Linked DNA regions of Homo sapiens. The protein of the gene in region 4 interacts with the protein of the main gene of each other region in a pairwise test. Each region holds a gene or a part of one and is shown on either strand. Other genes may lie near its edges. The genes, in order: CCDC180, ARHGEF37, GAS7, MECOM, GOLGA6L1 and CAGE1.

Region 1 (3,500 bases), on a different chromosome or scaffold from region 4:
GTCAGCAGCCAATTCAAAGACTGTGATGAGGATCAAATGAGCCAAGAAGGAGGGCTCAGCGCAGAGCGTGTGGCGTGGTTGTGAGCTGAGTAGTGAGCCTCAACTCGTTAGGTCTAGGCAATGATCATCATTTTTGAGATAGAACCATGCCTGGCACTTCCCCCATGACAGGGAAGGCTCCCTCCTTCCCAGGGGTGCTGATGCCTTGGCCATCATACCCCTGGCCTGTTGCAGGAAATGGAACCTCTCATCGTGGACACAGGGGGACTTTTTTTGAAGAAGCTGACTGAGTCTGATGAAGAAATGAACCGTCTCTTCCTAAAGGTGGAAAATGACACCAACCTTGAGGACTACACCATCCAAGTAGGGGTCCCTTCGTGGCTGGGCCTGCCCCACCCAGGTCCTGCTTCTTCCCTGCCTCCCACCGGCTCCTAGCCTGACCCAAACTTCTCTGCGTAGGCCCTGCTGGAGCTGTGGGATAAGGTGGCCGGGCGGTTACTGCTCCGGAAGCAGGAGATTAAGGAGCTGGATGAGGCCCTGCACTCGCTGGAGTTCTCCCGAACCGATAAAGTAAGTCGGCTGCAGGTGGGCTGTGTGGTGACTGTCACTTGCCGGGTTTATTAGGCATCCTTCTGTTTCCTTTTAGTTCTCCAGGAAGTGAGCCACTAAGTATGGTGCCTTGTCATTTCTAGCTAAAAAGCGTGTTGAAGAAATATGCAGAAGTCATAGAGAAAACTTCCTACCTCATGCGGCCCGAAGTGTACAGGCTGATAAATGAAGAAGCCATGGTGAGTGGTTTTCCTGTGCAGGGATCAGCCCATGGGAGAAGGGGCAGGACCAGGAACCCAGGGCACCCCGAGCCTGGTGTCTGGTGTCTCAGGAATGGTGGGCTTCTCATCTATAACGTTTCTAAGGGGCTCAGGTGGGCCTCTGAGGTAGAGAAGCAGAGTCCTTGCTATTGTAGTCCTTGCTATCTCTCTTTTCAATAGAGATCTTTCTAAAGTACATTTCATATTTCCCTGACATCTTGAACCAGGCACACCTAATATAGGGCTATCGTCTGGAGCGCTGATGATGTTAATGAGCACCTACTAGGTCATGTCTCAGCAACTGTGTGCAATGCAATAGGCGCTACACTATGGAGTCATCGGGGGGCTACGGTGGTCTCAGGGTGGTTTCCACCTTCATGAGTGATCTGCTCTGCCTGCTATGTCTGGCTTTTCTGCCTCTTCTTGCCTCTCTTCCTACCAGTGGTCTGTGCCCATTGCTGAGCCTGCCTCTTGGCTCTGTCCCCACTGCTTTCCCCTGTCCATGCCCCTAGCACCCCTCCCCACAGCTGCTTTCCTTGGGGTGGAAAACACAAAATTCAAGGTTGTTCATGATGTCTCCAAGGTCAGAGCAAAGTCTAACTCCTCTGCTGCTAGAGAGGACTCCTCTTTTGGCTGCCCAAAGGCACACTGTGGGTTTCCTGGTCTTGTGCAGTGAGCTGAGCTTGCTGGAAAAGGGGCCTCCTGGCAGCACAGTAGGCTGAAAAGAGGACAGTGTTCTGAATCACAGATGGGTCCAGCCCATGTCAGCTCCATGGCGACCCAGATAAAGCACAGGCAAGGAGTGAGCACAGGCCTTTTCCACTGCCCAGATGTGGAAGCTTCTGAAATGACTCAGCCCCTGAGCCTGGAGCTTGCTGCGTCGTTAAATGAAGATAATATAGATGTTCCTCCACTTACGATAGGGTCACATCCCAGTATACTCATCATAAGTAGAAAATGTAGAAAGTCAAAAATGCATTTAACACCTTCATAAACCCATCATAAAGTTGAAAAATCATGTCAAGCCATCGTAAGTCGGGGACTGCCTGTAATACCTGTCAGGACTTGTTGGGAGGATAATAAAAGAGGGTCCAGCTGTGGTAGCTGTCTTCTGAGATCAGCGAGGGCTCCTAAGTTGTGCACATTTTATCCAATAGAAGAGTCAAGGATTTCAGTGTCCCGGATGTGTTTCACTGCTTCCCTTCCTTGTGCTTCTACTCATTATTACAACTTGCATTTGCTACTTGTTCTACCTGCATTTTTCTCATTTATTTTCACAAAATCCCTATGCTATAAATAGCATGAACCCCATCTTACGGCTGTGGATCTGTAGGTTGAGGAAATACTTGCCAGTGCCACCCAGCTAGGAAGTACAGCTAAATCAAGCCTCAGGCTCCACTGAAAAGCATTACTGGAATTTCTAGTCTCTGAGCTTGGCAGGGTTCTCACCCACTGCCCCAGCATACTGCCACCTCCCTGGAGGGCTTTGGGAAATGTGTGGAGGCATTTGGGGCCAGGGAGGATGGGGGAAGTTACTCTCATCTAAGCAGGGGCAAGTATGCTAAAGGGCAAAACAGTGCCATGCAATGGAGGATCATCCCACGCCCATGCCAGGGGTGCCCAGGTGAGAAGCCATGGGAGGACTGCTGAAGAATGTTCTAGCTCTGGCCTCATTTTGCCATTGGGTCTCGGTTCTCCTAACAACCATATGTGGCTCGTCCCTGATGGCACGAGCACTCTGCTTTTGGAAGAAATTTATAAAAAAGAGTAAACACTTAGAGCTCACTGAGTGCCTGCCTCCTTTCACCTTCTTTAACAAACCATCTGAAGTGACCTTGGAGCTGAGCTGAAGCTCATGCAGTCAGGGTCTGTGGTTAAGCCTTCAAGGAAGACCCTTGTCCATGGCTACTCAGTGCCAGGAAGCTTCATCGAGTGCCCACTGACCCCTCAGTCCCCTTCAGGCCCTGCAACCACCCCACTTGGCCCTCACCCTGCACCTCCCCTCTCCAGCCTCCCACTGCTCCTCTCTAACTGAGCCTTGCCCTGACCCGAGAGAGACCCTGCCCTGTCTAGAGCCCTGCCCATCTGTGACCACAGGTCATGAACTATGCCCTGCTGGGCAACCGGAAGGCTCTCGCCCAGCTGTTTGTCAACCTGATGGAGTCCACCCTGCAGCAGGAGCTGGACAGCCGCCACCGCTGGCAAGGCTTGGTGGACACCTGGAAGGCTCTCAAGAAGGAGGCCCTGCTGCAGAGTTTCAGGTCAGTGCCGCCCACACAGCTCCTTCTCCAGCCCACCAGGGGGGCTGGCAAAGGGTAGGGGCGGCATTCTCCCTCACTTTTTGCCATTACTTAAAAATGCTGCTGTTTCTCTCTGCTCTTTTTAAAGTTAGAAATAGATAAAGGTATAAAGAATAAATTAAAAATCACCACTAATCTCTCCCCACAGTGAGAAGCACAGCAAATATTTTGGTATATTTTCTCCCAGGCTCTTTTAGATCCATAGAGTATATGCAGTTTCATATTTTATTCATGAACCTTGCTTCATGACCATTCTCTGAGCTCCATACAGCTGGAAAACATTCATCCAATTATCTGTATAATTTCCACTCTTTATTATCACTCATAACCCTGTGGACACTGGGCCTGAACAAGTGGACATCCTTCAGGCAAACACTTCCCAACTCTTGGG
Region 2 (3,500 bases), on a different chromosome or scaffold from region 4:
GAGGGAGGATCACTTGAGTCCAGGAGTTCAAGGCTGCAGTGAGCTATGAGGGCACTACTGCACTCCAGCCTGGGCAATAGAGAGAGACCTCATCTCTTAAAAAAAGACAAAGGCTGGCCGAGCACGGTGGCTCACGCCTGTAATCCTCAAACTTTGGGAGGCCGAGGTGGGTGGATTGACTGAGCTCAGGAGTCTGACACCAGCCTGGGCAGAAGCAATAGCTTGCTGCAGAAGTATTAACTCTGGAACATTCAACTTTTTTTTTTTTTTTGAGATGGAACACAAAAGTCCTAGCTCCTCAGGAGGCTGAGGCAGGAGGACTGTTTTGAGCCCAGGAGGTTGAGACCACAGAGAGCCATGCAAGGCATGGCCATGATTGTGCCACTGCAGCCTGGGCATCAGAGAGAGACTCTGTCTCAAAAAAGAAAAAAAGACCTAAAAGAGGTCCTCTGTACTATTCACTCATGTTTCCCCAGTGGTTACATCTTATTTAAATATAGCACAACATCAAAACCAGGAAATGGGCATTGGTATAATACATGTTTGTGTTTGATTGTTCTATTGTATTTTATTAAGTGTAGATTGGTGTAGCCACCACCTCAATTAAATTACAGAACACACCTATAATCCCAGAACTTTGGGAGGACGAGGCGGGAGGATCACTTTAGCTCAGGAGTTTGAGACCACAGTGGGCAACGTGGTGAAACCCCATCTCTATAAAAAATACAAAAAAATTAGCCGGGTGTGGTGGTGCACATCTGGAGTCCCAGCTACTCTGGAGTCTGAGGTGGCAGCCATTCTCTGCCTGGGAGGCAGAGGTTGCAGTAAGCCAAGAGCCAAGATCACACCACTGCACTCCAGCCTGGGCAAGAAGAGTGAAATTCTGCCTCAAAAAAAAAAAAAAGAATAAAATAGCCAGGCCAGACGCGGTGGCTCACACCTGTAATCCCAACACTTTGGGAGGCCAAGGTGGGCCAATCACGAGGTCAGGAGTTCGAGACCAGCCTGACCAACATGGTGAACCCTCGTCTCTACTAAAAATACAAAAATTAGCCAGGCATGTTGGTGTGCACCTGTAATCCCAGCTACTCAGGAGGCTGAGGTAGGTGAATTACTTGAACCCGGGAGGCAGAGGTTGCTGTGAGCCAAGATTGTGCCACTGCACTCCAGCCTGGGCAACAGAGTGAGACTCCATCTCAAAAAAAAAAAAAAAAAGTTGAATGATCTGCAGTTAATACTTCTGCAGCAAGCTACTGCTTCTGATTCTAGAACAGAATAAAACTGAGTTAATTCTTTTCTCTCTCTTCTCTTCTGTTCACACTGGCACAGAGGGATTTGGGCATTCCCACATTCATTCAACAAGTATTTGGAGCAACTACTACATGCCAAGCATTTTGCAGGATTCCAGAAATACAAAGATCAGGAAAAAGTGGGTCTACAATTAGGATAAGGTATTTAAAATATCTGGTTATTTGTTCCAGGTTTCACTCCACTAAAAGCAGAGGAACTATTTAAATTAAAACATGATGTAGGTTGGGCACAGTGGATCATGCCTGTAATCCCAACACTTTGTGATGCTAAGGTGGGAGGATTGCTTGAGCTCAGGAGGTGGAGACCAGCCTGGGAAACACAGTGAGACCCCATCTCTATTAAAAAAAAAAAATTTAAATTAGCCAGGCGGCCGGGCATGGTGGCTCACACCTGTAATCCCAGCACTTTGGGAGGCCAAGACGGGAGGATCACCTTAGGTCGGGAGGATCACCTGAGGTCAGGAGTTCAAGACCAGCCTGGCAAACATGGTGAAACCCTGTCTCTACTAAAAATACAAAAATTAGTCAGGCGTGATGGCGGGTACCTGTAATCCCAGCTACTCGGGGGGCTGAAGCAGGAGAATCACTTGAACCTGGGAGGCAGAGGTTGCAGCGAGCTGAGATCTCGCCACTGCATTCCAGCTTGGGCAACAAGAGGGAAACTGTGTTTCAAAAACAAAACAAAACAAAAAATTAGCCAGGCATGGTGGTGCATGCCTGTAGTCCCAGCTACTTGGAATGCTGAGGTGGGAAGATCGCTTGAACTCTGGAAGTTGAGGCTACAGTGAACAGTGATCATGCCACTGCACTCCAGCCTGGACAACAGAGTGAGATCCTGTCTTATAAATTAATTAATTAATTAATAAAACATTATGTGTCAATTAAAAACATAATAAAACTTTTAAAAAATGATATGGGCATCCTGATTATTTAATCCCTTTCAAGAGAGAAAAGTAACAAGAGGAAACAATATTCAAAACTTTTTTTTTTTTTAAGAGACAGGATCTCACTCTGTCACCCAGGGCTGGAGCACAGTGATGCAATCCTGGGCTCAAGCAATCCTCCCACATAGCTGGGACTACAGACATGTGCCACCATACCCAGCTAATTTTCTAACTTTTTGTAGAGACAGGGTCTCACTTGTTTCCGAGGCTGGTCTCTAACTCCTGGCCTCAAGTGATCCTCTCATCTTGGCCTCCTAGTGCACTGGGATAACAGGCATGAGCCACTGAGCCTGGCCTAGTTTTGACCAATTGGAGGAACTGAATGGAAAAATGGAACTAAGCTGATCCCTGGGGAAAGTGAAATTATCATTTGAAAGTTCTTTCAGAAGATAAAATGTCTGGGCAGGGAAAGTTGAGGATCCATCAGCTAGCTGCCCAAGGCTTTAAAGGGGAGCCATTTTATTTATTTATTTTTAATTTTTTTTCTTTCCCTTTCTTACTCCCAGGAGGAGCCCATTTAAACATTTAAGGAAGGGGGGAAAAAGGAAAACAATCTGGTCTCAGACTCCAGGAATGGTTCATAGAAAGCTGTCAAAGGTGAAGCTCAGACATCATGAGAGCAAAGGACCCTGTTGAAGAATAAAGGGGCCGGGCATGGTGGCTCATGCCCATAATCCCAGCACTTTGGAAGGTCAGGCGGGCAGATCACATGAGGCCAGGAGTTCGAGACCAGCCTGGCCAACATGGCAAAACCCCATCTCTGCTAAAAAATATGAAAACTTAGCCAGGCGTGGTAGCACACGCCTGTAATCTCAGCTACTTGGGTGGCTGAGACACAAAAATTGCTTGAACCTTGGAGGCAGAGGTTGCTGTGAGCTGAGATCATGCCACTGCACTCCAGCCTGGCATGGAGTGCAGGCACTCTATTAAATATTTTACTTGGATTATCTTAAGAAATCTTATAACAACCCTGTAAGAAAGAAAATCTGACAGAGCAAGATTCTGTCTCAAAGCAAACAAACAAACAAACAAACAAACAAACAAAAAGGCCGGGCACCGTGGCTCACGCCTGTAATCCCAGCACTTTGGGAGGCCAAGGCGGGCAGATCACGGGGTCAGGAGTTCAGGACCAGCCTGACCAACATGGTGAAACCCTGTCTCTACTAACAATACAAAAAAATTAACCAGGAGTGGTGGCACACGCCTGTAATCCCAGCTACTCAGGAGGCTGAGGCAGGAGAATCGC
Region 3 (3,500 bases), on a different chromosome or scaffold from region 4:
TTCAATGAAAGAGGCGCCAAAAAATTAGAGATTAATAAGTCATCGGTTTCTAGCACGTTGACTGAAAGACCAGTGAGTTGTGCTTGTTGAATTCTGCCCTCACTGCAGATGTGCAGGTCAAACCCAAAGTGGTCAATGGGAAAGATGAAGAAAGATGGATTTCCAGGGCATGGGCTCCCGACTAGAATCTGCCCCTCGCTCATGCTTCTCCCGGCCCCTTTAGACTCTTTAGACTGACATGGTGGAGAATGTGTTTGCTGTGGTAGAGAAAGGGAGAAAGTAATGAGCTGGGCCAAACAGCAGCACTGAAAGCTTCCCAAGTCACACTCAGACCAGACTTTTCCAGGGATTGGAAGATGGAGAGAGGGAAAGGAGGTGCAGACACCAAGTAAGGGTTTGGTGCAGGGCTCTGGAATGTCCAGAAGGAGCGGGAAGCAAAGGTGGCGGGACACTGCCTGAAAGGCGACAACCTAGTGTGGCCACAAGAGAGTCTGCTATGCCTGTCCAGTGCCCACCAGTGACAGAAAACTGTACAAGGGACAGCAGTCCCAGCCCTGCCATACACAAGAAGACAGAGCCATCTGGGGGATGGCAAAGACTTGCCCTAACCCATCTCACATGTAGGACTGACCCGGCCCCATTAAGAGCCTGTGGTGGGCGGCCCGGGAGAGTGGGGGCCAGGGCAGCCCAAAGGTGCACAGGGCACCGTGGCGGACAGGCCCCAGCTTGCTGGCCTCTGAGACGAGCTGGTTTGTTTCCATCCCTGAAGCCTTTGGACGAGCTGGATGAGGTCTTGATAACTGAGAACTTTGGAAAGCTTCCTCTAATGAGACTGGGAAGGGCTGGCAGGGTGGGGGCAGGGGCCTCCCCGAGGAAGCAGCTGGGGGAAGGATGGATTGGCATTTCCAGAGGAGACTTTACAGATGGCGCCTGATCTCATGGGACACGATTCAGCGCTCAATTTGGGGCTAATTTGCCGAATGAGGTAGTTCCATCCTGACCTCTCCAGGCATGGTGGGTCTGGGAAGACAGGAGCCAAGCCTTCCTCCTAAAACCCCTGGTGATGAACAGTGGCTGAGAAAGCCAGATGTGGACTCCCAGAATGCAATGGGAAAAAAATAAAGAAGGAGGGCTGCAAAGGATTCTGGGTGCGGCTGTGAGCTGAATGGCACCTTCTACCCATGATTCTGATCCTGACACCTGGCTTAGAGACAGAGCCCTCCCTACCCTGATCCTCCAAAGCCCTGGAGACAAGGGAGCCAGCTGGAGGAAGAGCCTTGGGGCTTCCAGGGCACAAGCATGTGACAGTGACCCCTACAAAACTCGGCAAGGACCACAAAGTTCCAGCCTCTGTTTGTTTCAGAGCGGCAAGCACAGCATGGGAGTCAGGGGGTCTTCAGCCTCAGAGACAAGGGCAGGGCTGTGGGTCTGTCTTCTGGGCCTGGGAATATGGGGGAGCCCCCAGCTAGGCTGTCCGGGTCACCCTTCTGGAATCACCAGCTCTCTCCCCTCTCCTCAGTGGCCCAGGAGAGAGGGTGGGGGGCATCCACTCGGCATGGGCCCCATGGTGGGAGCCCAGCCCCCCTCCCCAGCAGGACCCCCCGAAGCTGCACAGGCCCATCTAGATCTCCATGTCCACAGGGCGGATGTTGCCCGTCTTGTGCTCTCTGACCCACAGCTCCCTGTCTTTGGCCGGGTCCACTTTTCGAAGCAGCTGATCCACGGGCTCGACTGTCTGCAAGAGACAGAGAAAATGCGACACTGTTAGAGACGGCGGCCAAGCCAGGGAGGTCTCCTCTGAGACATGCTGTCCTCACCTTAGTGTCTCTGAGAGCAGCCTCTCTAGAGGGCTCCGGGGCCCCAGGGGGAGGCCCATCTGAGGGACAGCACATGAAGAGGGCTGTGAACGGGGAACCCAGTATGCATCCCGACCCTGCTTCTCACCCTGCAGACCCCAGGCCTGGATGAGAGGCCAGGAGGGCCTTAAAACCTGTCTCTATCCCTTCCACCCCACATTTACCACCAGTGAACAGGACAAATAAAACTTGAGCTTTAGGTATTGTGAATATTTCTAGAAGTTGTTTTTTTTGGTTTTGTTTTTTAAGAAATTTAATAATGTCTTCAGCTACTGTAACTGTTACGAGCTTCTTTCTCCTCAGGGTAACAGCTCACGTGTGTGTCCACTTCATGTGCCAGGGTCGGAATCACACAGACGTCCAGGACAATCCTGAGAGGCCCAGTCCACGAGGCCACCCCCAGGCCAGAGCACCTGCCCACTGCCCGCCTTTAGGGCAGATTCACTTGCAGCAGCCACTTAACCTGCCACGGCCTAGCGCCAGGCGGCTCTCCCCAGGCCCCGTGTCGCCCGGGAGCCCCGCTGGGCTGGAAACTCACGCTTTGGTTGAACATGTCTGTTTCATGCCGCAGCTGCGTGTACTGGCACAGGTGCTGCCGGATCATCTCTACCCTCTCCACCTCCAGCCGCTCTAGCTCCTGCCGAGAAAGCAAAGGCCAGAGAACTCTGAGCACGTCCCCTCCACTTGGGGGTCCCCCCACCAAGACCACAAAACGCAAGTCACTGGCTGTGGACATTCTGTCCCATCTGACTCTCTGGGGTCTGATGAAGAGCGTGCCCCATATCTAAGGTGAAGGTGAAGCTGATGACAGCAGCAGCGGCTGTTTTACTTCCTGAAATCCTGCTCCGCCACGCACAGTGCTGAGGGCTTTACGTGCGTTCCTTAACTGTCCTCGTTACAATTTTAAGAGATCGTTTCTGTTATTATCCCCATTCTCCAAGCAAGGGAACTGGGGAACTAACACCTAGAGAGGCAACAACACAGCTCACCCAAAGCGACACGGAATTATGGGAGGAACAGGATTTAAACCAGAGTCCATCAGGCTGTTACTCATGGCAATGCACCCATGCAGCCCTGGCCCTGGTGCCCTGATGGGGTATAACAAGGGGGCACATGTGGGAGCTCCATGCCACACATTCCTGGGACCTTGTCCCTGGGCCTCTGCTGAGCAGCCTCCCTTCCTCTGCCTATGCCTAGTGCTGTGGCCGCAATAGAGACCGGGCCAGGGAGGCAGACTGGGCTGCACGTGGCACAGCTTTTGTCAAAGGGGAGCGTGGAAAGGGTTTGTCCTCTGGTTTCTAGATGGTTTTGTGTCTTTGGAATCTAGGGGATCCGGCTGTTACTCTGCATACAACTAGGTCACTGCCCAGGTGATTAATCAGAAAGGGGGGTAAAGCAGGGGGCTTAATTAGGAGATTAACCAGGAGGAAAACTAGGTCACTGTCCCTGGTGGAGGCCTCTAATCTGCTCTGGTGGGCTGACACCTGGGGAAGGCAGCTGGTTAGTCCTGTGCTGGATGGACAGGGGTGGCTTTAGGCAGTGGGCTGATCCGATGAGCACCTGGCATGATGCCTCCTGTCCCATCTGGCCCAAGTACCAGCCACACTTCACTGTCCACTCAGGCAGGTGCTGACTGATAAGGAG
Region 4 (3,706 bases):
GTAAAAATTAATTTCATGGTAATAGGTACTATTTATGTATTACCTCAGTCAGGCACACTGAGCTAAACACTTTATGTAAGTTAGTGCATGTGATTCCTCCACAACTCTTGGAGGCCAATACTGTTATTACTATCATCTGTTTTATAGGAGGAAAGTAAAGCTTAAAAGGTTAAGCAACTTGCTCAAGATCACACAGCTAGGTGAGTAGAGGCAGGTTTAAAGGCAGGATTAAAATTTAAATTCCAAAATTTTCTTTGTACTCCTTTTTATCTTCCCAAATATCAGAATTTGTTTTAACTCTTTCAGAGTACTCTTTATCTTGTTCTCTAAAAGTAGGTACATAATCAGAATAGATAATTTAGGTTGAATGCTCACTTAACCCATACTTTAAACTCTGCCAAAGATAAGTACTCTATATTATTTATTCTTAATTTCTTAGGATCTATCACAGAGCCTGGCATAGAGTAGATGCTTAAGAAATATTTGTTAAATGGATCATGAGATATTGTAGAAGTCCAAAAGGCAAATTGCATACATAAAAGTCAAATGTGTACATTTAGAGCGATGACCCAGCAAATCAAAAATCAGCCTACAAGGGTAAATTTTCTAACTAAATGCAATGATTACGGAAGAAACCACAGACTGGCCACATGTCTCAGCATGACTCCCAGAGATGAAATTCTGCCTAACAACAGAGGCATTTTGTCTTTGTTTACAGACAGTGGAATGTCTTTGGCAGGACTTTAATGATTCCACTTCAGCAGCATTTTGACAAGCAAGTTTAGCAATGGATGAGACCAACAATAGCAAATCAACAGTGAAAAGTTCACTTACAAGTCAAGACCAAACATTTCATTTGAATATTTTGCTTGGCAGTAAATAGGGGACTCTCTGAACAGTTATTTAAAATTTGACATGATAATAGGGAAGAAAGAGTACTTCCTCACAGAGCACCTCCATGCACCTTCTGCTCAGCAGACACTGGAAAACAAGTTGATTAGAACACTGTTGGGTCTTGTGTTTGGTTTTATTTTTTTGGTAGAGCTGATTTGATCCACCTCAACTTATGGGTGCCAGGACTGAGTATGTCAAGCATGGAGGGAAATTGGAGAAAAGACAATGGATTAAAAGTTGGGCAGAAATACATTTTAGTTATGCTTCTCCCACTATCTATCTAATTGAGTGACTTTGGGCAAGTCACTCAAGCACCTTCAGTGCTTTCGGTTATAAAGTGTAGGAGTCAGGCTGTATCCTCTACTAGGCCACAGCTCTGTCAAGGTAGGTCTATATCTTATTAATATTTGAGGTTTCAGTCATAAGCACACAATAATATTTTTGGTGAATTGAACATATGTAGTGGATGGATGACTGTATTTATAGTTGAACAGGAGACTGACTCATTTTTCTCAATGGAAGCACTATTTGCATTTTAGGTAGGATAGTTCTTTTTGGTTCTGTAGCGTGTGTCACTTTTGGGGCCCCTAGGCACTAAAGGCCAGCAGTAATCCCATGTGGTTTCTACAAAAAATATGCCTTCTTTGCCAAACACACCCATGAAGGATGCCCCTACTCAGGGTCCCATCCCTTTCCATTTACCAACAATATTCTTTGAACTAAAAGTGATGTTTTTCAAATGCCATTTACTGAGTCTCTCTCCTTTTTACCCCAGGCATATGCTATGATGCTGTCACTGTCTGACAAGGAGTCCCTCCATTCTACATCCCACAGTTCTTCCAACGTGTGGCACAGTATGGCCAGGGCTGCGGCGGAATCCAGTGCTATCCAGTCCATAAGCCACGTATGACGTTATCAAGGTTGACCAGAGTGGGACCAAGTCCAACAGTAGCATGGCTCTTTCATATAGGACTATTTACAAGACTGCTGAGCAGAATGCCTTATAAACCTGCAGGGTCACTCATCTAAAGTCTAGTGACCTTAAACTGAATGATTTAAAAAAGAAAAGAAAGAAAAAAGAAACTATTTATTCTCGATATTTTGTTTTGCACAGCAAAGGCAGCTGCTGACTTCTGGAAGATCAATCAATGCGACTTAAAGTGATTCAGTGAAAACAAAAAACTTGGTGGGCTGAAGGCATCTTCCAGTTTACCCCACCTTAGGGTATGGGTGGGTGAGAAGGGCAGTTGAGATGGCAGCATTGATATGAATGAACACTCCATAGAAACTGAATTCTCTTTTGTACAAGATCACCTGACATGATTGGGAACAGTTGCTTTTAATTACAGATTTAATTTTTTTCTTCGTTAAAGTTTTATGTAATTTAACCCTTTGAAGACAGAAGTAGTTGGATGAAATGCACAGTCAATTATTATAGAAACTGATAACAGGGAGTACTTGTTCCCCCTTTTGCCTTCTTAAGTACATTGTTTAAAACTAGGGAAAAAGGGTATGTGTATATTGTAAACTATGGATGTTAACACTCAAAGAGGTTAAGTCAGTGAAGTAACCTATTCATCACCAGTACCGCTGTACCACTAATAAATTGTTTGCCAAATCCTTGTAATAACATCTTAATTTTAGACAATCATGTCACTGTTTTTAATGTTTATTTTTTTGTGTGTGTTGCGTGTATCATGTATTTATTTGTTGGCAAACTATTGTTTGTTGATTAAAATAGCACTGTTCCAGTCAGCCACTACTTTATGACGTCTGAGGCACACCCCTTTCCGAATTTCAAGGACCAAGGTGACCCGACCTGTGTATGAGAGTGCCAAATGGTGTTTGGCTTTTCTTAACATTCCTTTTTGTTTGTTTGTTTTGTTTTCCTTCTTAATGAACTAAATACGAATAGATGCAACTTAGTTTTTGTAATACTGAAATCGATTCAATTGTATAAACGATTATAATTTCTTTCATGGAAGCATGATTCTTCTGATTAAAAACTGTACTCCATATTTTATGCTGGTTGTCTGCAAGCTTGTGCGATGTTATGTTCATGTTAATCCTATTTGTAAAATGAAGTGTTCCCAACCTTATGTTAAAAGAGAGAAGTAAATAACAGACTGTATTCAGTTATTTTGCCCTTTATTGAGGAACCAGATTTGTTTTCTTTTTGTTTGTAATCTCATTTTGAAATAATCAGCAAGTTGAGGTACTTTCTTCAAATGCTTTGTACAATATAAACTGTTATGCCTTTCAGTGCATTACTATGGGAGGAGCAACTAAAAAATAAAGACTTACAAAAAGGAGTATTTTTCCCCACTGTGTGGTATTTTTCCTTCATGCAATTTTACTTTCCCTTTGGGATCCAATGATTTAAAGATATGATGCTGAGATCTTGATGCCCTACAGATATGTGGAATGTAGAGTATGTTTGTTTTGTTTTGAGATAGCATAAATGATAGTTCTTGGGCAACAATGAGTCTCGCTTATTGTTCTGTACTTTCCCCATGTGGTGCAGTCAGGGCTCAAGTGCACCACAACCCAGTCCTGGTATCACTTCACGTTCACAGCATCCACTTAAATTAGGACAAAGAGCGACTTACAGGTTTTCTACGGATTGTATGCCAAAAGGAACTCAGTTTCTTATTTTTGTTTTTCATTATACGAGTAGTGTTAACTGATTCACAAAGGGGGGAAACCTTTGACTTTTCTATGCTCCTTTTAATTTTTTGTCCACATGCAAAATATCCTTTTTTCATTGTTATAACTGCGTGTAAACAAGATTTATTTTTTCTTTCTTTGCTTG
Region 5 (3,500 bases), on a different chromosome or scaffold from region 4:
GATGTGGAGGGCAGTAGAGTTGTGTGTGCTCCGCCCCCTTTCTCCACAGTCGGATGGAAAGAAGGGGGCTTTCAGCCAGGCTCGCCCAGGCTGGGGTCTGAGTGTCACTGTCCAGCTATTGGCTTCTTGCTTAATGGGTGAGCCCAGCTGCTCCCGTGCAGCTGCCGCCCTAGTGAGGGTGAACCGGCAGGCGAGTTACATTTCTGAAAGCCTGGGAATACAGTAAATATTAGGCTGTGGGCTGCTGGGCCAGGAAGAGTTGTTTATTTTTCAGGGTTTGTTTATCTATTGACTTGATGAGGGAGGGTTATAGGTACAACCAGTTTAAAGATGGAAATTTTGAGAGAGCAGGCAGGGATTTAGTGCTGGGTAAGCCTGGTCAAAGCGGCTCTTTTGGGGCGGCCAGAATCCAGTACCAATGTCCTCAGCATGTTCATCAGCTGCTGGGGGAGTGCGGGACAGCATGAAAGCACAGGAGAACTTTCTGGATGATAGAAATACTCTGTATCTTCAAAGGAGGTGGGTTCCATAGTAATGTTAAATGAGTTAAAACTCATCAAAATGTAAACCAGACCTGTGCATTTCACTAATAGAAATTATACCTCCAATTAAAAACATGTTTTAAAAGACAGATGGGCCGGATGCAGTGGCTCATACTTGTAATCCCAGCACTTTGGGAGGCTGAGGCAGGTAGATCACCTGAGTCAGGAGCTCGAGACCAGCCTGGAAAACATGGTGACATCCTGCCTCTATTAAAGGTATAAAAAAAAATTAGCCAGGCATGGTGGCACACGCTACGCGGGAAGCTGAGGCAGGAGAATTGCTTGAACCCAGGAGGCAGAGGTTACAGTGAGCAGAGATCGTGCCATTGCACTAGAGCCTGGGCAACAGCGCAAGACTCCATCTCAACAACAACAAAAAAAGGACAGATGAAGGTTTTCAACTTTCAGTAAAGGCAGAGGAGCTTGTTACAGATTCGCCTCCCCACAAGAGCAGTTAGAAAAACTGGATAAAAATGTGCCCCGCCCCCAATCAAAAACAATTGTTGGAAGGTAATTGGAGACCTCAGTCAGGACTTGAGTGACCAGGCCTAGGAGGTGATCCTGACAGTCTGTAGTGCTTTCCCACATTTGGTGATTGGTCAACAGTAGAGGGCTAAGAGGCTAAGAAACTGAGTATGAAGTGGTAGTTAAGAGGCTGGAGAGCCTAGCTGAATGTTTGGCACTCTCACAGGGCTGAAATGACCTAATGAGAATTTGGGTCCCAGGAAGGAGATGGGACCTTGGTGGGGACCCTGGAAGGGCCACCCCTGGGAGTCCAAATGAATAAAACATAGACCAGCCATCAGAAAACCTAAAACCTGCTTTGAACCAGCTTAGTCCCAAAGTAGATGAAGGCGATCTGCCCTTACTCCAATTGTGTGCCATAAACTCAAAGTCAATACTCTCTGGAGGCAGATAAAAGTTTACTATGAATGTCAAAAGACAACACAAGACTAAATGAGAAAGACCAAGAAGAAAACTAATAGAAACATACATGTAAGGAAGAAACTTTTTTTTTTGAGACGGAGTTTCGCTCTGTCACCCAGGCTTGAGTGCAGTGGCACGATCTCAGCTCACTGCAACCTCTGCCTCCCAGGTTCAAGCGATTCTCCTGCCTCAGCCTCCCAAGTAGCTGGGATTACAGGCATGCGCCACCATGCCCGGCTAATTTTTGTATTGGCCAGGCTGGTCTTGAACTCTTGACCTCAGGTCATCCATTTACCTCGGCCTCCCAAATTGCTAGGATTACAGGCGTGAGCTACCATGCCTGGCCAGTATTTTGCCACAATTTAAAATAAATAAAATTTTTTTTTCAGGTTTGTGCTCAGACTATATTCTAAACAGTCACATGGCGGCTTACTCTTCTCCAGGCCTTGCTGCCGGCTTTTACATGTTTATTGTCTTTGCCTTCTTGTCATGTGCTCATTAGATGGCAGCTTCCAGGTGCTCCTAAGGGGCCAGGAAAGAGAGTGAGAAGGCACGGAGGTTGCCAGATCATCCCCCTTGGGGCCCCGCCCTCATCAACTCCCTCAACCGGGTCTCCTGCAACTATTGGTGGGCCATCTCGGCCACCGCTTCGCCCTGAGCTTCCTGCTGCTGCAGCTGGGCAGTGCCTCCTTCTCAGAGGCCAGCTGCTGATAGGCGGCCACGTACTGCTGCAGGTGACCCAGGTAATGGTCTCGCTGCTGCTGCAGACTCAGCCTCTTGGCTCTTCAGCTCCACCTGCAGGATAGGCGTCAGGGTAGGTAGTGGCTGGCTTCCAGATTCTGGGCCCATAAACAGGGTAGTGAGGGCACTGCGGGGCTCTGTCGCCTACCCAGGCCCCTGGCCCTGGCCCCTTCCTCCAGGCCTAAATGACTGCCTCCCTTGCCTAGAGGCCCATGCCTCCCTCCCCAGCCTCAAATCTCACACCCTTCTTCCCACCATTTAAACTGTAGGCCACAGACTGGTGGAAAAGCAGAGGGAGCCAACCACCATCTGCTAAGTTGTGGTGAGGTCGTTCTGTATGATCTCCAGGGTTTGCACACACCTCCGCCTGCTCCCCCCAAGAGCTCGGCCTTCTGCCCCAGCTTCCCCAGCCTCTCCTCCAGCTCCTGCAGCCTCACCTGGTGTTCCTGCATCTTCTCCTCCTGCTGCCGCAGCCTCACTTCCTGCTCCCACATCTTCTCCTCCTGCCTCCGCATCTTCTCCTCCTGTTCTTGCATCTTCTCTTCCTGCTCACACATCTTCTCCTCCTGCTCCCACATCTTCTCTTCCTGTTCCTGCATCATCTCCTCCTGCTCTCGTATCTTCTCCTCCTGCTCCCATATCTTCTCCTCCTGCTCTCGTATCTTCTCCTTCTGCTCCCGTATCTTCTCCTCCTGCTCCCTTATCTTCTCCTCCTGCCTCCGCATCTTCTCCTGTTCTTGCATCTTCTCTTCCTGCTCCCCCATCTTCTCTTCCTGTTCCTGCATCATCTCCTCCTGCTCTCGTATCTTCTCCTCCTGCTCCCGTATCTTCTCCTCCTGCTCCCTTATCTTCTCCTCCTGCCTCCACATCTTCTCCTCCTGCTCCCGTATCTTCTCCTCCTGGTCGTGCATCTTCTCCTCCTGCCTCCACACCTTCTCCTCCTGCTTCCGTATCTTCTCCTGCTCGTGCATCTTCTCCTTTTGCCTCCATATCTCCTCCTGCTCCCTTATCTTCTCCTCCTGCCTCCACATCTCCTCCTGCTCCTGCCTCTTCTCCTCCTCCCGTATCTTCTCCTGCTCGTGAATCTTCTCCTCCTGCCTCCACATCTTTTTCTCCTGCTCCCGTATCTTCTCTTCCTGCTCCCGTATCTTCTCCTCCTGCCTCCACATCTTCGCCTCCTGCTCCTGCCTCTTCTCCTGCTCGCGTATCTTCTCCTCCTCCTGCCTCTTCTCTTCCTGCTCCCGTATCTTCTCCTGCTCGTGCATCTTCTCTTCCAGCTCCCGTATCTTC
Region 6 (3,500 bases), on a different chromosome or scaffold from region 4:
TAAATACCTGAAATTGTATATTTTTATGTTAAAGATAGTACGTAGTAAATATTAAGCTCACCTTAATAGCATGATCTTGAAATGCTTTTTCCTTAGCAATTAACTCTCTAAAGGTTGTGATTCTATCTTTATGTTTCAGTAGCTAAGAAAAGGAAAACATTCTGTATTTTAGAGAGAAAATACAACTACGCTCTAATATTTATAATAAAATAATCAAACCGGGCCGGGCGTAGTGGCTCATGCCTATAATCCCAGCACTTTGGGATGCTGAGGCGGGTGGATCACCTCAGGTCAGGAGTTCAAGACCAGCCTGATTAATATGGTGAAACCCTGTCTCTCCTAAAAATACCAAAATTATCCGGGCATGGTGGCTGGCACCTGTAATCCCAGCCACTCAGGAGACTCAGGCAGGAGAATTGCTTGAACCTGGGAGGCGGAGGTTGCAGTGAGCCGAGATGGCGCCATTGCACTCCAGCCTGGGCGACAGAGCAAGACTCTGTCTCAAAAAAAAAAAAAAAAAAATCAAACCATGCAGTCTAACAGTCTTCAAAAAACATACAAAAAATATGTTTTTATAGCTCTTGTGAGGAAAAGAATTCACACAGCAGGTCCAAGACTGCTAGGCTTAGAGAGGCCTGCTGGCAAGGCTGCCCCATGACTGGCATTTGGAAAGTTGGACTGCAGAAAGTTTTCCACCATTCTCTGATGTAAATGGCTTATGGTGCTCAACCTACTTGCCCAAAGCATGGGCATCTACTTTCCTTCCAGGGGTCTGGAATTTTGGTACGCACTAGGCAGAGGGTGCTTATGTGAACAGCTCCTGATAAAAACCTGGGGCACTGGGTCTCTAAGAAGCCTCGCTGGTAGATGACACTTCCACACCTGTGGTTGCAACTCATTGCTGGGGGAACGAAATGCATCCTGTGTGACTCCATGAGGACTCTTGGAAGCCTGAGTTTTGCTTTCTCTAGACGATGCCCCTGTGCCTTTCCCTCGGCTGATTTTGCATTGTATCCTTTGCTGTGGTAAGTCATAGCTGTGAGGACGACTCACAGTCCTTCAGCTAATCATCAAACCTGGGGGTGGTCTCGGGGTCTCCAAGGAGTTATCCTAACATAACGATTGTTATTACAGTCAGGCTATTAAAATTTTTCCTTAAAGAAAAAAATTAGCCAAATCTGGGCGTAATTTATAATCATTTCTTATTTATTCCTTCAGTATAATAATAATCTTAATATCCAATATTCAAACTGATTAGTGAAGTGTGGTGTGCAAAATATTTTTTATTCTTTATTGCAAACATTTTCCAATATTTAAAATAGAAAAAACTTTAATGAACACCACGTAACTATCATTCAGCTTCAATAATTAACAGCTAATGGTCAATGTCATTATATCCTCAATCACTGCCCTCTTCCCTCCATCCCCCTTCACTGAATCAAACTGCAGACATCATATCACCTGTCAATACTTCAGTAATTACACAGAAAAAATTAACCAAAAGAACATAAATATCTGAAAGAAATATTTGGGGGATTTTTTTTTTTTTTTTGCTTTTTGTTGTTATTGTTTGTTTGTTTTGAGACAGTGTTTTGAGACTTGCCTCACCACAGCTTCGACCTTTCTGGGCTCAGGTGATCCTCGCACCTCAGCCTCCGGAATAGCTAGGACACAGGTGTGTGCCACCACGCCTGGCTAATTTTTGTATTTTTTGTAGAGACGGAGTTTCCCCATGTTTCCCAGGCTGGTCTCAAACTCCTGGGCTCAGGCCATCCGCCTCCCTCAGCCTCCCAAAATGCTGGGATTACAGGCATGAGCAACTGTGCCCAGCCTGAAATTGTATTTTTGTAACAACCTCAGTTGGGCTTATTTTTGAAAGCTGTTTAGAGGAGTAGAGGCCAGCCGTTTCTCTGCATGACTGTGCTCATACTTTGGTCCTGTCCTCTACAGGCTGGCTAGGAGGCAGAGAGATTCTTCAGGATACCCGCAACACGTCAGTTCAGATAAGTGTTACAGAATGAATTTGTTATGATCCAAGATTCCAGGTTTGAATACGTTTTGATTCCTTTAGCCAGATAAAATTTTCATGTCTGCATTCCTCTCAGATTCAAAATGGTACAATTTGACATCCTGTTATCACCTTCCTTATTTAATTCTCTTCATTTTATCCTTCAATCTGTATACTACCACACCTAGAAAAGAGTACTTGAGGCCGGGTGCAGTGGCTCACGCCCGTAATCCCAACACTTTAGGAGGCCAAGGCAGGTGGATCACCTGAGGTCAGGAGTTCAATGGCTGCATTTCATTAAATTCGGCCTGGTCAACATGGTGAAGCCCCGTCTCTACTAAAAATACAAAAAATTAGCTGGACGTGGCAGCACACGCCTGTAATCCCAGCTACTTGGGAGGCTGAGGCAGAAGAATCACTTGAACCTGGGAGGCGGAGGCTGCAGTGAGCCAAGATCATGCCACTGCACTCCAGCCTGAGCAACAGAGCAAGACTCTGTCTCAAAAAAAAAAAAAAAAAAAAAATTAAAGAAAAGAGTAACTAAAGACAATCCAAGAACCTCTGCCCTCACCCTTCAGCCACCTGAGAAATAAAATTATTTTCAATGTTTCTGTTATTCCAAAGGATGAAGTTTGAAATCACTATAGGAAAGTCAAAATAAACAACCCTTCAGGAATCAGTAGTGCCGTGCAAAAATGAAAAAATTTATCATACTAAATTTTTTGTAGGTGAATGAGATTTTCCCATACAGACAAACAATAAAACAAGTCAAATGTTGAACATTTTATCTCTTTAGTGAGGGGCACAGTAAAACTAATCTGGTCCCCCAAAATAATTTTTAAAATGATTCCAACTTTAAGAGTTACTTCTTCACTACCTTTTAACTATTTTTTCACTAAAAATAATAAAATTTTTAGAAGAAGAATAAATATAATACCTCTTTATCTAAAGTTTTCTTTTTAAGATGGAGGCTCTTCAGTTTTTGCAGCATTATATCACTAACCTTCTCACTCTCTTTGAAATGTTCAGCATCAGAATTGATGATGTCCTAAGGGTAAGAGTTTCAGAAGCTAGATGAAAAAGTTTTTACTAAAGCTAAAATGAGGCCAAAACTATGCATATGAAACAAAAACAAATCTCCTTTCAATAAGTAAGCCAATCAAAAGAGGTAAAATCATATTGAACTCCATTCCTCAATTACTTATCAGAAGGCATCCAATAAAGGGTTAGTACAGAAAGATTTCATTTTTTTTATTTTAATTTTTTTTTTTTTTTTGAGATAGAGTTTTGCTCTTTCACCTAGGCTGGAGTGCAGTGGCGCGATCTCTGCTCACTGCAACCTCTCCCCCCAGGTTCAAGCTATTCTCCTGCCTCAGCCTCCCAAGTAGATGGGATTATAGGCACCCGCCACCATGCCCAGCTAATTTTTGTATTTTTAGTAGAGATGGGGTTTCACTATGTTGGCCAGGCTGGTCTCGAACTCCTGACCTCA

What was found.
Region 1: the proteins of MECOM (region 4) and CCDC180 interact in a two-hybrid assay, tested with the Homo sapiens proteins (one study listed by BioGRID).
Region 2: the proteins of MECOM (region 4) and ARHGEF37 interact in a two-hybrid assay, tested with the Homo sapiens proteins (one study listed by BioGRID).
Region 3: the proteins of MECOM (region 4) and GAS7 interact in a two-hybrid assay, tested with the Homo sapiens proteins (one study listed by BioGRID).
Region 5: the proteins of MECOM (region 4) and GOLGA6L1 interact in a two-hybrid assay, tested with the Homo sapiens proteins (one study listed by BioGRID).
Region 6: the proteins of MECOM (region 4) and CAGE1 interact in a two-hybrid assay, tested with the Homo sapiens proteins (one study listed by BioGRID).

Annotation. Positions count from the first base shown.
Region 1 is NC_000009.12:97,314,159-97,317,658, forward strand, and holds part of CCDC180 (coiled-coil domain-containing protein 180), read left to right. Parts: intron 1-234; coding exon 235-363; intron 364-459; coding exon 460-570; intron 571-692; coding exon 693-788; intron 789-2,906; coding exon 2,907-3,070; intron 3,071-3,500.
Region 2 is NC_000005.10:149,587,998-149,591,497, reverse strand, and holds part of ARHGEF37 (rho guanine nucleotide exchange factor 37), read right to left. Parts: intron 1,973-3,500; exon of another isoform or gene 1,856-1,972; intron 1-1,855. UniProt on the Homo sapiens protein: May act as a guanine nucleotide exchange factor (GEF).
Region 3 is NC_000017.11:9,915,607-9,919,106, forward strand, and holds part of GAS7 (growth arrest-specific protein 7), read right to left. Parts: intron 2,494-3,500; coding exon 2,395-2,493; intron 1,736-2,394; coding exon 1,622-1,735; 3' UTR 1-1,621. UniProt on the Homo sapiens protein: May play a role in promoting maturation and morphological differentiation of cerebellar neurons.
Region 4 is NC_000003.12:169,083,007-169,086,712, reverse strand, and holds the end of MECOM (histone-lysine N-methyltransferase MECOM), read left to right. Parts: intron 1-1,669; coding exon 1,670-1,804; 3' UTR 1,805-3,206; downstream 3,207-3,706.
Region 5 is NC_000015.10:23,126,823-23,130,322, forward strand, and holds the end of GOLGA6L1 (golgin subfamily A member 6-like protein 1), read right to left. Parts: coding exon 2,648-3,500; intron 1,992-2,647; coding exon 1,968-1,991; 3' UTR 244-1,967; downstream 1-243.
Region 6 is NC_000006.12:7,365,743-7,369,242, forward strand, and holds part of CAGE1 (cancer-associated gene 1 protein), read right to left. Parts: intron 3,057-3,500; coding exon 2,946-3,056; intron 143-2,945; coding exon 62-142; intron 1-61.